Regions from separate parts of the Homo sapiens genome. Here region 2 is linked to region 1. A link means that fine-mapping ties the variant in region 1 to the expression of a gene that starts in the linked region. Tissue or cell type: blood mononuclear cells. Region 1 holds a variant in brackets; the other region holds the start of a gene. All regions are shown on one strand. Distances are from middle to middle.

Region 1 (8,000 bases):
ATCACAGTCCTTTGGTTTTTCACTCCACCAAAAATAATTGTAATGTGAAATGTCAAGCCCTCTCATTTTCATATGCAAGGCAGAATGAGTGCATTTTTAAAAATAGTTTATCGAATGAATGCCTTGCTAGAAACGGATATCTTGACATAACAAAGGCATTGTTCCTTTCCACATCTGTTAACTTTTTCAAATCAAATTGCAATATTTTGAAAAAGGGCCGTTTAAATGTAAATAAGACTCCAGATAACACATGCAGTTATTTGTTACACTTGCTGCTATTGATAATTTAGGAACAATGTTAGAGGGAGGGAGGGAGAGAGGAAGAGAGAGAGGGAGAGGTAGAAAAAGAGCGGACGTGCAGACAAGCAACAATGAGAAGAAAGCAACCACACTGATGAGACTTTTGTCTCATTCTGCCCCATCATTTTTTCAGCAACTTTTGGCTAAAATCACGGCCTACATTTCTATTATCTATACACTGAAAACAATGAAACAATATAATGCTGGCTTAATCTAGCCAAGCAAATTAGAAAAGCTCTGGTTTCTCCCAACCCATTAAAAAAAATCAGCTGAGCACTTTTACACGGTACTAATACAAATAAGGTACAGTCTTCACACTACAGTCCATGGAGAATGAACACACATTTTAAAACGTAGCAGTAGAACAACTGGAGATATGCAAATGCTATTATGGCAGCACACAAAAGGGCAACCAACTCAGATTAGGCCCAATCAAGGACATTTTCAGGATGATAGTGCTGACTTTTGGGAGCTGAACAGGGATTAGTTAGTCTCGGATGGAGGAGTGAAAGGGCTGCAATCTTCCAGGCAGAGGGAACAGTATTGGCAAAGGCACAGAAGAGGGTGGCTGCTGTATAAAGAGGCGTGGCTGTAATGCTGTGTTCTTACTTCCTCCCATTTGACATAATCAGCAAAAGACTGAGGGTGTTTCCCTGCTCACATGGTGCCTTTTACAAGTTGGAAGAAATTGTCCTTTCTAGACATATGCAGAAAAAGTAAACAGACTAGACACCCAGGGACTTCATGGAAAAGAAGAGGGTAAACTGGATTCAAGCCCTCAATCTTCCCCTTCCCTGAGTGCCTTTGTGCAGTGTACAAACTGCACAACCACATATGAGTGGCCTCTTGACACCTCAACTGGAGTCACAATTTTGCTAACAGTACTACAGGTAGGTATAACTGCCCCTCCTCTGTTATTTCTGTAGCCCATGCTCTGCATTCAGGACCCAAAGGCACAAGGAGACTCACAAGTGAATAGAAGGTCCCATGAGCATAGTAAGCAGAGGGGTGATTAGACTTGATTCGAATTCAGACATTCTGAAGCAGACAAAATCTAAATGGGATTTTGGAACTGAAATTTAAGATACAAAAAGGAATTTCTTTGATATCTAGTATGAATCTTGAGGATAAAACTGTAGATGAATTTTCAAAATATTAAGCAATTAGATTCAAACACCTTCCACATTTTCAGTGGCAATTGTGAGATTAGTCCTGGCTTTTGACCCCTCTCTCATCACTTAAGGAGAAGTTGTTAAAAATTTGCCAGCTGGGGAGCGGGGAGGGCTTAAGAAGTCTATGTATCCCATTAAGTTTCATGTTGTCCTATAGAATCCACCAGATGAACTTGCCTGCCTTTTTGAAATGCCTTCTCCATAATGTATGACATGTTGCTGAGGTTACAAACTTATTCTGAAAGTAACTTAGTGTCCGATCAGGCAGGTATCCTCAGCATTTGACTCACTTTTAGCTCAACAGTCTTTTTAATTGCTCTTGATATTCCAATTGCTTACTTAATCTCTTTTAGCCCTTCAAGATTCTGTCTCTTTGTTATTTTTGTTCTCCTCTTGTCCAGATGATAAAAGTCTAGAATCTTAGCAAAGGTATCATCATGAATACCTTCTCCCCTCACTCTCTGACTCTTTTTTTTCCTTTGTTTAAATCATTCCCCAGCAAAGCAGTGATACCTCAAAAATAGTGGTGTTTTGGCCCTAAGTGAATGTTTTCCAAGCTGTAACTAGTGTTCAACTTGTGACAGAATACCAATCCATGTTTTGTTGTATCTTGTTTGGCCATTCCCCTGTTCACTGTTTCTCTTCACCCCCTCGATTCAAGAAGCAAGGCCATCTTGTGCTACATGTTTGAATGAAGGGATTTGACAGGGCAAAAGGCAGAGACATAGGAATCTGCCAGACCCCGAGCTCTGAAAGCCACCAGTTCCACAAATGTAGCTCATCCTTTTTCAAATAGAAAATGGGATGGATTTGGAAAGGCAGATGGAAAAATGATGATGGTAGAGATGTTGGTGGGTCTTAGCATGGAATGAAAGAAGCTGAATGATTCCTGTGCCTCTAAGAATGGAATGAAAGTAGTTGAGAGACTTTCTAGACCTGAAAGGAAAGGTAATTAGGAGGACGGAGAAAAAGGGATAGGTCAGCAGAAACATGCTTGGGTGAAATACTCAGTACTGGCTGGCCCTATCACATGTCCCCTTGCTCAACATATACACACAGACATTATACCCTCCCCTCTACCCTTGCATATAAGGCCTTTGGTACTAGGTAAGCTTAATAGAACTTTGATTCTAGCTGGGAGAGAGGAGAAGAAAACAACTTGAAATGGGCTCAGATTATGTTTCTAAGACCTCACAGTTCCCACATATAGAGAAAGGGGTCTCAAAATAGAAATTAAATTGTGATAAAGACTATAAAGTTATAACTCTTGTCCCACCTGAGCTGTAGTCTGAGATATATTCTTGCTATATAGTTAAAGCAGAGGGTTTATGGCCACATAAGTTTAGGAAATGCTGAGCTAAACAAATTGAACAGATTTCTTAATTACACACTGTAGGACATGCCAGAACTTTTAACATGCAAATGGATGCTTCCCAAACTCATGTGATCACAGAATTCTTTATTCCAGGAACATCTACAATTTGGGAAATGTTGATTTAGTTTTTAAATTCTGGTCTTATTTAGATGATGTGCATAAGCTGATCACACAAATCACTTACAGAATGGTTTTGATTACAAGATTTTTAATGCAACCAGTATCTCCTCCTTACCCTGACCCTTATCTTCCCTCTCTTCTACTTCAACAGGCACATCTCAAACAAAAAATGTTTCCCTCATATTTTAGATCTATCTAAGGTGTTCTTTTGGCTTACATAAATACAATGAAATTATAAATCTTAAATATTCCTGGAAAACCCTAATCTAAATTCTGGCTAGAAAAATATGGTATCAACTGTGGAAAAACTTGAGCTGGAGATAAAATATGCCATTCATTACACTGCATATGCATGTTGCCATCTTCTGAATCAGATTAATACAGATTTTAGACAGGAAATCATACTTTCTGTCAGGTATTTCTCTCCTTGGTGATTTTTACTATTCAAATGGAATTCTCCCAAGAATACAAGCAACCATCCTCACTTGCATTAAAGAAAGATGTGAGGTGCTGAGGGCAAGGATGGGAAAATGCATCTATTTATATCCAATGTCTAGCCTTGTACCCAGCACATGGTAGTTGCTAAACAGATGTTTGTTAAATAAAATGTAGGGTTTTAAATTATAGATGGTTCAGAAACTATTGTCTAACATGTATAGGGAGTATAGTACATAAAGCAAAGCAATATAAGTACATCAGAGATTATGCTCACCTAGATAAGTGGATTTAATAGCCTTGTATGACAGAGCAGCTGTCATTTTCCAGTTGCTAAAAAAAGGTTGCCTGTAGTGAACTGGGGGGTTTAGGCACTTGATGTAAATCTGTCTTGGCAATGATATGTTCTCCTATTATAGTAAGTAATATGCACATGCCTTTCTTTAAACACACACACAGACACACACACACAATTAAAGATATCTAGTTTCTTGATTGCAAATAAATGCTGCTTGTTTCATTTTTTTTTCTTTCATTCCTAATTTACAGATGCTTCCATACTCACAAATAGTACTTGTTGCTGCTAGGAACTGTCATTGGCACTTTGTCCACAGACTGCTAGTTGCTAGCTAAATTCTCTCT[G/C]GGTGATAGGCTCCTGCTTCATTAATTTTATGCATCCTGGTTGAAACAGGGGTGATAGCTGCCAAGATGACAGGAAAAGACGGGCAGAAACAGCCCTCTTCAGGGTTAGCCTCAGTGATGATGAGTGAAAGTAGGTCACTTCCTTTGCACCCCTCCCTCCCAGGAAGGGTGGCAGCAGGGACTATTTCCAGTGCTGAAACCAGAGGGAGGTTTTTGTTTTTGGCAATGATGTCAAGGGGGAAGTTTGTATCACTTTTATGCTGAGGCTGAATATATAGAAGAATTATTTCTTCAAAAACATTTCAGAAGGAAATATAATCACACAAATTACATAAAATAATACTCTTGTTTCTGCTGCAAAGCAACCCAGTAAAATCAACAGGAATTAAAATACTGGTTTAGGAGCAATTAGAAGAGGATATAAATCATGATAATAAATTACATTTTGTTTCTATTTTCAAGTATATTTAAAGTAAATTATGAACCACTTGCTGAACTATGAACTATGCATTTAAGCTACATTTTAAGGACAAAAAGCTAATTATGAAAAATAAATGGTGCCTACACAGACAGTAAGATAAATCTTAAAGTGCATGACTTTCCACTTGAGCAATGCTTTCTACAAAGATTGTAGGTTAATACTTAACCTTTAAGATTAAAACATTAATCAGATATTCTCTGAGTGAATGAAGATTTATGAAGCAATTTCTGAAAAATAAATAAATTACAAAAATATAATGCATTTGTTTGACAAGTGCGTTGAGAAACTTTATTTCACCTCATTGAGTGTGGCCTTTTTTCTCCAAAGGATGATGCAAAGGATGATTGTATCTGCGGTTTTATAACTCCCAAGGTAGAAATCATTTTGCAAGACAGTGTAGTATACTCTTACCTCTCACAGCGTGGTCCTGTGTACCCGACAGGGCATCCATCACAGATCAATCCAAGACTCCGGTCTAAATGGCACGTTGGGCTAAAGCTATGTTGATGTTGTTGCGGAAAACAGGGACAAGGAAGAAGGACATACACAAAGTCATTAGCATTTTCTCATTTCTCTCTCTCCACTACTGCTCTGACAAAAGAGTACAGGCTGGTCATTCTCACCCCAGAGACAGAGATTAGGGTCTGGCCAATGGAGGATGAAATGACATTGCTATTTCTGCAGACGTGAATATAGCCCAGTGGAGAGCAGTATCCCTGTGACATGTTATTAACTGACTTTCGACTGCTCTGAGTAGTGATCATCAGTAACAAGTGGAAATGTATAGCTGCTTTTTAGAAATTCCTCCAGGCCTGGCACATATGCAGCCTCACATACTTTCTTCTGTAGCCAAATCCCTCTGAATTTGAAGCAGCCTGGAGAAATTTGTTAGTGATTTTGGAAATCTCAGTATGTGGTAGTGGTGGTGGCAGTGCTTCCTTCTTCAGCTACTGCCATAGTGGGGCGTGCCTGTGTGCAGGCTGCGGCATGTGCTTCCTTGCAGGTATGCCCTCACACTGATGGAATCCTCAGGAAAGCTTTCAGAAGAGATCAAGTGTGCATATTCTACCTAAACTTATCATAAACCTAACCAAACAAAAGCAACCTTGCCATCTCATACCCTCTGGCATGTTTCAAAATTCACTTCTCTCTTTGCACATATTTCTAATTTGGGTCTGAAGCAATAGAGCTGAACACCAGATGAAGAACCAACAGAGAACTCAGGTGCTAGCTTTAGCTTTCAGCAACATGTTTCACTCCAGCCATGCTTCTTTGCCTTGTGAGAGGCACCTCTCATACATGAACCCCTACCCCAAGATTGACACACGGTAATGCGTTCTCGACTGGCTCTCTGAAGGGCCATCAACCATTTTGAATTCTGTAAGGTCTGTTGCGCTACCGTTTTAAAGGGAAATGCCCTCAATTAATCTTTCTCTTATTATGTTTTCCCTAAGTAGATTTGTTTTCTATTATATATGACAGGGCAATTCAATAGAGACTTGCTTGATGGCTAAATGAATTAAAGACATAACAACAAATTAAACATTCCAAGTCCTGATTTGATCCTGCTCCTGACACTTGAATTACTTTGAAATACTTTCTTAACTTTGGTGCAGATCAGATCATGAACACTATTTCTGAATAGTATTTCTCTGGCTTAACTCAGGGTAGTTCTGTAAAGATTTAATAGTTCTTCCTATTTTTGGGATACTAGCAAGGTATTAGGACCAGGTAAGTCTATCATTTTAAACATTTCAACTCAGTGGAAAGTCTAAATGAATCTGCTGGGTCAAGGAGATAAAGGCTGGTCTGGGATGCTTTGAATTTATAAATATTATCTGGATCAAAGATTCCACATTAAGGAGTTCTGGTAGCTGTGATGAACAGCAGACAAGACATACCCAGCGTGTGCACTGCGAGTAAAGAATCTCCTTTTATAAAGCATCCTGTACTTTGCTACGCATGACCCAAAGACAGTTCACTATGGGTGATTTTCTTGACGGGATTGTGATTGCACTGAAGATGCACAGGTTAAAATAAAATAAAAAAAAAGGATTTCCTCTCATCCACATCCGGTGATTTGCTGTTACTGTTTTCAGACATAAAAGTGAGAACTGCATCTCTGTAGCATATATATGTCTTCTTTGAAAATTGGCATTCTGTAACTATCTCATCATCTACTGAGAAACTGACTCCAACCAGAAGCACTGGGTTTCCCACCTCTGTGGGACTACACTGATTGAAAGAAAACCATACCAATTGTTTTTTATAATCCTAAATCAGTTTATCATAACTCTTGTCAATGGTGGTTGACAAGGCTTCTGACATTTTTAAAAATATTTTATTTTATTTTATTTGAGACAGAGTCTTGCTCTGTTGCCCAGACTGGAGTGCAGTGGTGCAATCTTGGCTCACTGAAACCCCTGCCTACTGGGTTCAAGCGATTCTAGTGTCTCAGCCTCCTGAGTAGCTGGGATTGCAGGCAGGTGCTACCAGGCCTGGCCCATTTTTGTATTTTTAGTAGAAATGGGGTCTCACCATATTGGCCGGGCTGGTCTTGAACTCCTGACCTCAAGTGATCCACCTGCCTTGGCCTCCCAAAGTGCTAGGATTACAGGCATGAGCCATTGCACCTGGCCTTGACACTTTAAAGCTATTCATAAAATAGATTTCAGATTCTTAAATACACTCACATGTCAGTTAAAACCAACATAAGTAAAAGGTGCTCACTGACAAAAATCAACACTTTTTCGAGAAAAAAATTAGGCAATAAAAATATGTTAAATTTGACTAGCTCCTTACAGTTCAGAATACTTTTACAATTTTATCACATTTTCACAAAATCCTATGAGCTGGTTAGGGCAGGCACAGTTTTTCTTAACCAAGGTCATATACAAAATTTCCAGGAGAATTTAGTATGGGATCTAGGACTTTAGATTCTTAATGTGATATTCTCTTCTTCCTATAACCAATTGTCATTGAAACCTACTGGTAAGAATTAAGTAAGTTTAAGTTTCTAGTAATATAGATACTCGACATAACGCATCCAAATAAAACTTTCTCATAAAATATATCTGTATTTGTGCTTTGATATTCTTTCAACAACATAAACTGAAGATTCACTCTCTTATTGCTGTAATTGCAGTTACAGCTATGGCAGAAGATGGCATTCAACAACAAAAATAAAATTAGAGTGAGAAATAAACATGCACAATAAAAAACATCTACAGAATTTGCCTTGGCAAATGCAGTCACTTAGCACTAATTTTGGCCAAGACATGAAGCTAATTGTTCCGTGACACAAAGAGGAAATTGTGAGATCATCATTGACCTCAAGTGATTCCAAGATTATGTCATTTAACTCTATTTGGCTAGCTCCACACCAGCAGAAAATGTTCTTCATCCCGGATTATCCAAACCACGCCACAGGAAACACAAGAAAGCCAAGAGCAGCGGGCATTTTCCACAAATAGGG
Region 2 (8,135 bases), 400 kb after region 1:
AGCCACCTCTATCAATTTTGGACCACATGCAGTTCTGATAAGCTTGGATTTTACATTTTCCATCAAGCCATTACCAAGATAGTTGAGTATAAGAAAACCTCTGTTGCACTGCTAGAGACTTCTTTCCGGATTGACCTTAATCCACTATGCAATATTCTTTGTGAACTATTTTTCAATCAGTTGCAATTTACCTGCCATTATGCTTCAGTTTCCACATATTATTCACAAGAATATCAGAAAACATTTTAGACACTGCCTTGCTGAAATGCAGAATCATTTTGATTGCATCATTCTATTTCGTCAATTTTAAATATAGCTAAAGAATTTCCTTGGAATATCATTCTTGCTGAATCAATGCTATTCATACTACAATCGAGTATGCTATAGAAACCACATAAGATTTCAAAGAAAAAGTAAAAAACAAAAAGTCTGGTTATGTTTCTAACTCAACTGCAACATCTAAAAATGGTTGATTCATGTCAAAAATTCTTAATAAAGTGGTATCGAATTATAAGGGGAAATAGAACTTCTACACAATTAGCGCTTGCCTAGAAAGGTCAGTGCTAGTATAATCGAAAACAGAAAAGTTGATCATAGCCAGGAAAACCCTTCTCCAGTCAAACTCATATCCCGTGATTTTCACAGAGGGCTTGCTTCAATGGAACAACACTAAAAAGAAAACATGGCCTAAACAATTAATGGAAAGAAACCTTGGAACCATAAAAAAGGGAATTCAGCACAAACAATACCGGAAGTGTTTTAGTTGTTGAAATAAAGTTATTATTATGTAAACTTAAATTACAACTACTGGAAGCCTAAGTTCTAAATTTGTCCTTTGAGAATAATAATATCTGAAGGTGAATAAAGATCGTGTACATAAGGCATTTTTAAATCATAAATCACTATCCAATTTTAAAGTTTCATGAATTTTACATACTTTCAACATTAACAGGTTTAAGTCATTTATCCTTGAGCCAACCTCCAGATATATTGTAAATGGTCTATGACAAAGACAATAATATATACTAGAATGCAGATTATAGCAGCCTATAGTAGATTGTATGTTGTAGCTATTTTGAATAAAATTCCTTATTGTATGTAGCATTTAAGTGGTATCTTGACAGAATGGTAGTATAAACCCTTCCTCCTGAATTCACTTCATCTTGTGCCTGGGTCATAGAAATCAGAGTTAATATTACCTTATTTGAAAAGAGAGTAAATAAGAAGGGAGAGGAAAAAAGAGAAATCCTGTGTGTGTTCAGGATAATTCTTAGCAACAATTTACTTGATCCTTACTCTGCATGCTTTGAGTTTCTGCCCCATTCCAAGTGGACATAAGGATTGGTGCCCCTGGCCCCTCATTTCTCCCAGCTGCCTAACATTATTAAAGTATTATGTCTTGTTTAAACACACCTTGTAATTGAGCAAAGTTTAATAGTTAAAAGTAGAATTTTTAAAAATAAGTGGCCAGAGATACTCTTAAAATCACTCTCGTAAATTATATTAATTAAGTCATATTGGCCCCATTTTACCTCTCAGAGAAGCAAAAGCAAAAATAGAAGGAAAAAAGTTATATAGTGAATGCAAGGTCATTTTTATTCCAAGAATTTTAATCAGGGAGTTATTATTATAGAAAGAGCTTGGGATATCTCTTTACTCCTTAAAAAATAGTACTGCTAAAAATGCTAGATTATAAGAACAAATATCAGAACTATTGACTTGGCTAGAAGTTAACTGGAAGAAGGATAAGTATACTTCAAAACTTAAGCAGATTCAGCCTCATTAAAACTTTTAAAAGCTTCTAACCTACAGATTTTGTACTCTTAGGTTAAACATTTTCATATTTAAAACCGAATAATAAATATTTCTTTTTTTTTTACTTTGATACAGGTTTTCCAACTTAAAGAATTGTTTGCTGAAATAATGTGTTACAAAGTATGTCTTACAATGCTGCACATGTGCTTCCTGTAAAATTCATGATAATAAAATAACTCTTCAAAGACTCCCCAAAGTTTCAGAAATGAGAGCTATATATACATAAACACTAAGAGGCTCTGAGGAGAATAAGTTATTTAAGTTACATTAAATACAGCCATCTTCCAAAGTCCTCCAAAGTGTATATCTAGTCACTGTGGCCTTAAAGTACACATGACATAGAAGTCTCCTCTGTATTTAAGCAAAAGGAGAAATTTCACGATTTCACTACAATAAAATAGGATATGAAGATAAGATGTGGGTTTGAAAAAGGTGAGGCTGGAGGCGCCATTGCCATGAAAGAAAAAAAACCACATAACTTCTTTAGAAATCCTGTTTTAAAAGTTGAAAACAAAGTTCTGTAAAACTTTATATATATATATATGTGTGTGTGTGTGTGTGTGTGTGTGTGTGTGTGTATATATATATATATAATTTTTTTTTGATGCATCAGCTACCCTCCATAAAGTCCCAGGATGAACCACACAGCTTGGGAAGCCTTTCTCTGCAGGATGGGCTCTGATTTGAAGAAATTCTTTTTTTTCCAATTGGAAAAAGTTTTCCTCTTGGAAAGATTTCAGAAATCAATTTACGGGATGTATCGTGATAGCAAGACCTCTTCGAAACTAAAGAACAATGAAAAGCACTCCCCGTTCCTTTTGCAGGACTTAGGTAATTCCCCCTACACTACGCTCTCATGGCATTGAACTTGAACTTGCTTCAAGTTCCTCTTGCCCCAGAGCGCACTCTCTGAAGGCGAAGCAAGACGGCAGTCCACAGACAGCAACTCTCGGAAGAGTGGAAGAAGTGAGGAATCTCGGTCCCGGCAAAGGATGCAACCCAAGCCCATGCCTCGACTGTACCTCTTTGCTGATGTGCCTGTGACTGCCGCTGCTGCTGCGGCCGCTGCGCCTGTACGCCCCCGAGGCCTCCGGAGAGCAGCAGAAGGAGGAGGACCCCGGCGGCTCCCGGCATCGTAGTGGCCGCGACCGGATCCACTTCTCGGGAGCCAGAGGAGTCGCTGCCGCCCTGTCCCCTGGCCTTGGCTTGTGAGCTGAGCGAGCAGCAGCTGCTGGGGAAGAGGAGGAGACAGCCCCCTCTGGCTTTGGCCGGGCCGCCGCCTGAGGGTGGGGGAGAAAGAGGACACTCCTCCACTCTCGCCTTCCATGGGCACGCGGCCCCAGGACGGCCCTCTATTAAAGGATCCTCCTTTCCTAGAGCGCTCCTTCCCTCTGAGACCGGATCATTCCTAGCTTGACCTGGTATCTGAACTTCTTTTAAATTAAAGAAAGTAATTGACATGAAAGCACTTTGAAATCTGTAAAATCCCTACACATGGAAAACATTATTTCTGGGAAATGCAAACAGCTAGGAACTTTTACCTCTTGAGAAAGGCCTGGCAAAACTGTGTGCAGCCACTGTGTACCTAGAAGATCCAAGACATCCCCAAGGCCAGAGTGTCTGAGAAGTTACTAGCCGAGGGAAGGTGCCCTCTGGGGACACTGCAGGCTGGGGAACTTACTGCTAGGTAGGCTGCTGGGAGGGCAGTAAAGGAAGTGCAAAATAAAACAGCCACCCTGGCGTCCCTGAAATGTTCCTGACCAAACTAATGGTTAGAATGAAGGCTTTCAGTTCAGTTAGGAGACATTTACTTAAAGGTAATAAAGGCCTTTGCAATAGTTTCCTTCCAGACTCACAATTTCATCTCTTCCAGTCCTGGTTTCTCCTCTTTCTCCTCTTTAACTCAACAGAACTACTGCCATTCCTAGTTTTTGTTGTTTTTTCATTTGTTTTTTATGGCCTAGGTCAGTGGTTCTCATAAGGTTTAAAACAACTCCATAATGGATTTTGTGAGTCGCAGGATGTCTTTTGGTTTACTCCGGGAACGGTGGGTACTGCAGGCATTAGTGTACTGTTGGGTCAGGGTGTGAGCTGTCCCTCAGTGGTCAGGACAGTCCTACAACATATTTTGTCCTTAGACTTCTGAATGGGCCACTGGTCATTTATGTAGTGAGTAAACAAACAAACAAAACAACAAAACCTTGCCTTATATTTGAAACCTAATTTAAGTTTGTTTCCACATCAAATTTTTGTGTGTGTTTTTTGTTTGTTTGTTTGTTTTTTTCTAGGATGCATCTACTATATACATTGAGAAGATAATTTACTTTGTGTTTTTGGATTTTACACCCATTTGTCAATGGGTGTAAAGATGTACTTTCAGAGAAGCACATCACTGATAACAACCTTGCCCATGGTACTTGAGTCACCAGCACAATATCAACATCCCATCGATTACACTGGGGTCATCTAAGAATAGGTGCAAACTTTTATTTTATTTTGCCTCCTAAGGAAGTTTTACCCAAGCATTTATATGTTGAAATACATATTGTCTTATATAGATAGTTTTCTTTTTTATAGTTAAGATGTATTGATTTATCTAAATATTATATTAAAGTTGAATTTTCTTTCAGTAAAATTAAGAGAGTATTGCTTTGAAGAGAATTGATTGAAAATCACTAGCCAAAGCCCATTCTTTAATATTATTCATGTCTTTTAGTTCTGTTAATATTATACCAGAAAGCTTTGTAATCCTTTTACCTTACTGTGGAAATTTGCAAAATGTAGTCTGCCCATGTCTGCACACTTATACATTATTTATTATTATAATAAACAATAATAAAACTTATATTTGAGAGTTTATTATAATTGAAGCCCCAGTGTTTTTAATTTGGTCTAATTTTGCCTAGAAGTGTTTTTCAGGTACATCTAATAGCAGAGAGGCACCCTAAATTAACCTTCTAAACCTATTGCTATTCTCAGAATGATTATTTTTACTCAACCACGTTGTGGCCTCAACTCAAATTAGTTAATCTAATAAATAATAAAAAATATTTATAAAAAGGAAAAGTTTTATTGAATATTTATAAAAAGGAAAATGATTATTTTTACTCAACCATGTTGTGGCCTCAACTCAAATTAGTTAATCTAATAAATAATAAAAAATATTTATAAAAAGGAAAATCAGAATGATGCAGCTGCTAACTCTAATTGTGGAATGAAAATATACCATGTTCCCTCTATCCCCTTCCTCTTTACATTTTCCCAGGATTTTATAATCAATATTTGTACCTGCTTTTCTGCAGTTACTGCAGTTACCTGAGTTCCTATTTTACATGAAAATGCCTTGAGAATAAGACTATGATCTCCACTGTCAACTCTACTTGTTTGATTCAGCACATGGAAAAAATTCTTAAATATTTAACCCAAATTAAAATGAACCAGTATATTTAGAGCTATATTTTTTCCAAATAAACCTAAATAAGGTACAATTTACACACAATAAATATGCTCATTTGAAACATTTTTTAGATGTAAATACTCATCTGACAAAGTACCCAATACATAGTCTATTTCTATAATCTCAAAAAGTTTTCTTTCTGACCTTTTGCAATAAATCCCCCAACCTCCATTCCCAGAAAAAGGCAACTGCTGATCTAATTTTGTCACTATAGATTATAACTATTCTCATATTTCATGTAAATACAATAATAAAATAGTAATCTTTTGTGTCTGGCTTCTTTCACTTTGCAACATGTTTTGGAGGTATAGTCATGTTGCTTATATCAGTAATACATTCCTTTTCATCTCTGAATAATATTCTATCATTCTAATAGTATCTATCATTCTATATCGTATGGATATATCACAATTTTTTAATACATTCAACTATTAAAGTACATTTGGGTTGTTCCAGTTTGGGGCTATGAAGAATAAAATTGCTATGATTATTTAAACACAGTGTTCGCATGGACATGTTTATATTTCTCTATTCCTATCAAGTCTTAGGAGTTATATTATCAGGTATGTAATTAGCGCTATACAAAACTGTGAACCTCTTTTCCAATGTTGTTTTATAATTTTACATTCCTCCCACAGCAATATATAGGAGTTCCAGATGCTCTATGGCTTTATTAACATCTAATATTGTTACATTTTAGCCATTCTAGTGCTTGTGTGGTGATACCTCATTGGTGGTGTCATTTGCACTTCTTTGATGATGCTGAACATATTTTCATGTGCTTAATCGTCATTTGTATATCTTATTTTGTGAAATTCTTCTTGAAATCTTTGCTCATTTTGCTTTGTTTGCCAGATTATTAATAAGATTTAAATACATATTCTAGAGAAAAGACCTTTGTCAAGTACATTTACTATAATATGTATTGTTCTCAATCTGTGGCTTGACTTTGCATTTGGAGTGCTTTCAAAGAGCAGAAGTGTTTAATTCTGATTAAATACAATTTATTAAATCATTCATTATGCTTAATATTTTTTGTCCCTTTCAGAAATCATTGCCTACACCAAAGTTGTGAACATTATCTTCTTTATTTTTTTTCTAGAGATTTTATAGTCTTAGCTTCTACAGTTGGGTCTATGATTTATTTCCAGCAAATTTTGGTGTTTGCTGTGAAGTAGAGGCTTAGGTAAGGGCTTTCTTTTTCCATGTAGATATCCATTCACTTCATCATCATTTGTTGAGAAAGATATAATTTCCTCGTCTAATTACCTTGGATCTTTTTTCAAAAGTCAATTGACCACGTGTGGGTCTATTTTTGGACTCTCTTTTCATTGGCATATATATATATATATATATATATATATAAAATGGCATATATATATATAATGGCATATATATATATAATGGCATATATATATATAATGGCATATATATATATATAATGGCATATATATATATATATATATATATATATATATCTCCTTATTCCACTATCACAGTCTCTATTACTGTAGCTTTACAGTGAGCCTCAAAGTTAGGTAAGGTAAATCCTATAATGTTGTTTTACAAAACAAAATTATCTTTACTATTTTAGGTTCTTCACATATTATGTAATATTTAGGTAAAAATCTATTCATTGGTGAAGTTGAATATTTTATTTTTTAATTTTAATAGACTATTGTTTAGAGCTGTTTTAGATTCACAACAAAGTTGAGCAGAAGGTACAGAGATTTTCCATATACCTCTGACCCAACACATTCATAGCCTCCCCCTTTATCAACATGCCCCATCAGAGTGATATATTTGTCACAACTGAAAACCTACATTGACATATCATTATCACTCCGATTTCATAGTTTACATTAGGTTTTAATGTAATTTATAATTACATTAAATTTATAATGACATGTATCCAACATTACACTATCATATAGAGTAATTTTACTGCCCTGAGATTCCTCTGTGCTCCACGTATTCATGCCTCCTCCCTGTCCCCACCTCCAAACACTGGCAACCACTGATCTTTTTACTGTCCCCTTAGTTTTACCTTTTCCAAAAGGTCATATATTTGGAATCATACAATATATAGCCTTTCAGATAAGTTTCTTTCACTTAGTAATATGCATTTAAGTTTCCTCTTTTCATGGCTTGATAGCTCATTTCTTTTTAGCACTGAAAAAATATTTCGTTATCTTGAAGTACCACAGTTTACTCATCCATTCATCTAATGAAAAACACCTTGGTTGGTTCCAAGTTTTGACAATTATTGATACAACTGCTATCAGCATCTGACCTTTTGCAATAAATCCCCCAACCTCCATTCCCAGAAAAAGGCAACTGCTGATCTAATTTTGTCACTATAGATTATAACTATTCTCATATTTCACATGTGAAGGTTTTTGTGTGGACACAAGTTTCCAACTCCTTTGAGTAAATACCCAGAAGCACAATTGCCTGGATCATATGGTAAGAATATGTTTAGTTTTCTTAAGTCCATATAATTTTAAATATCAGCTTATTAATTTCTACCCAAAAAAGGAGAGTAGGGAACATGATTGTAATGAGGTTGGACCTACAGATAAATTGTGGGATAATTGATATCTTAGCAATATTTAGACTTCCATTCACAAATATAGCCCGTCTTCATTTATTTACATGTTTAATATTCTAAGCAGTGCCTTATAGTTTTGAATGTACATGTCTTTTGGGTTTCTTTTTTTTTTTTTTTTTTTTTTTTGAGACAGAGTCTCACTCTGGCCTAGGTTCAAGCTATCCTCTTGTCTCAGCCTCCCAAGTAGCTGGGATTACAAATGTGTGCCACCAGGCTTACCTAATTTTTGTATTTTTAGTAGAGACAGGTTTT

The links. PIP is the estimated chance that this variant, and not a neighbour inherited with it, causes the effect.
Region 2: it holds the start of LAMA2, and the variant in region 1 is fine-mapped to the expression of LAMA2 in blood mononuclear cells (TOPMed, PIP above 0.99). The same link has a PIP of 0.9 or more in whole blood.

What each region holds. Positions count from the first base shown.
Region 1 is chr6:129,277,084-129,285,083 of GRCh38, reverse strand. LAMA2 (laminin subunit alpha 2) reads right to left here. Exons shown (of 65, transcript NM_000426.4): 18 at 4,937-5,023. Among named protein-coding and RNA genes, the nearest start is that of LAMA2, 400 kb to the right of the region's middle. The variant G/C (reference allele first, on the strand shown) is at 4,045.
Region 2 is chr6:128,878,060-128,886,194 of GRCh38, reverse strand. LAMA2 (laminin subunit alpha 2) reads right to left here and starts at 3,057. Exons shown (of 65, transcript NM_000426.4): 1 at 2,838-3,057. The coding sequence starts at 2,949.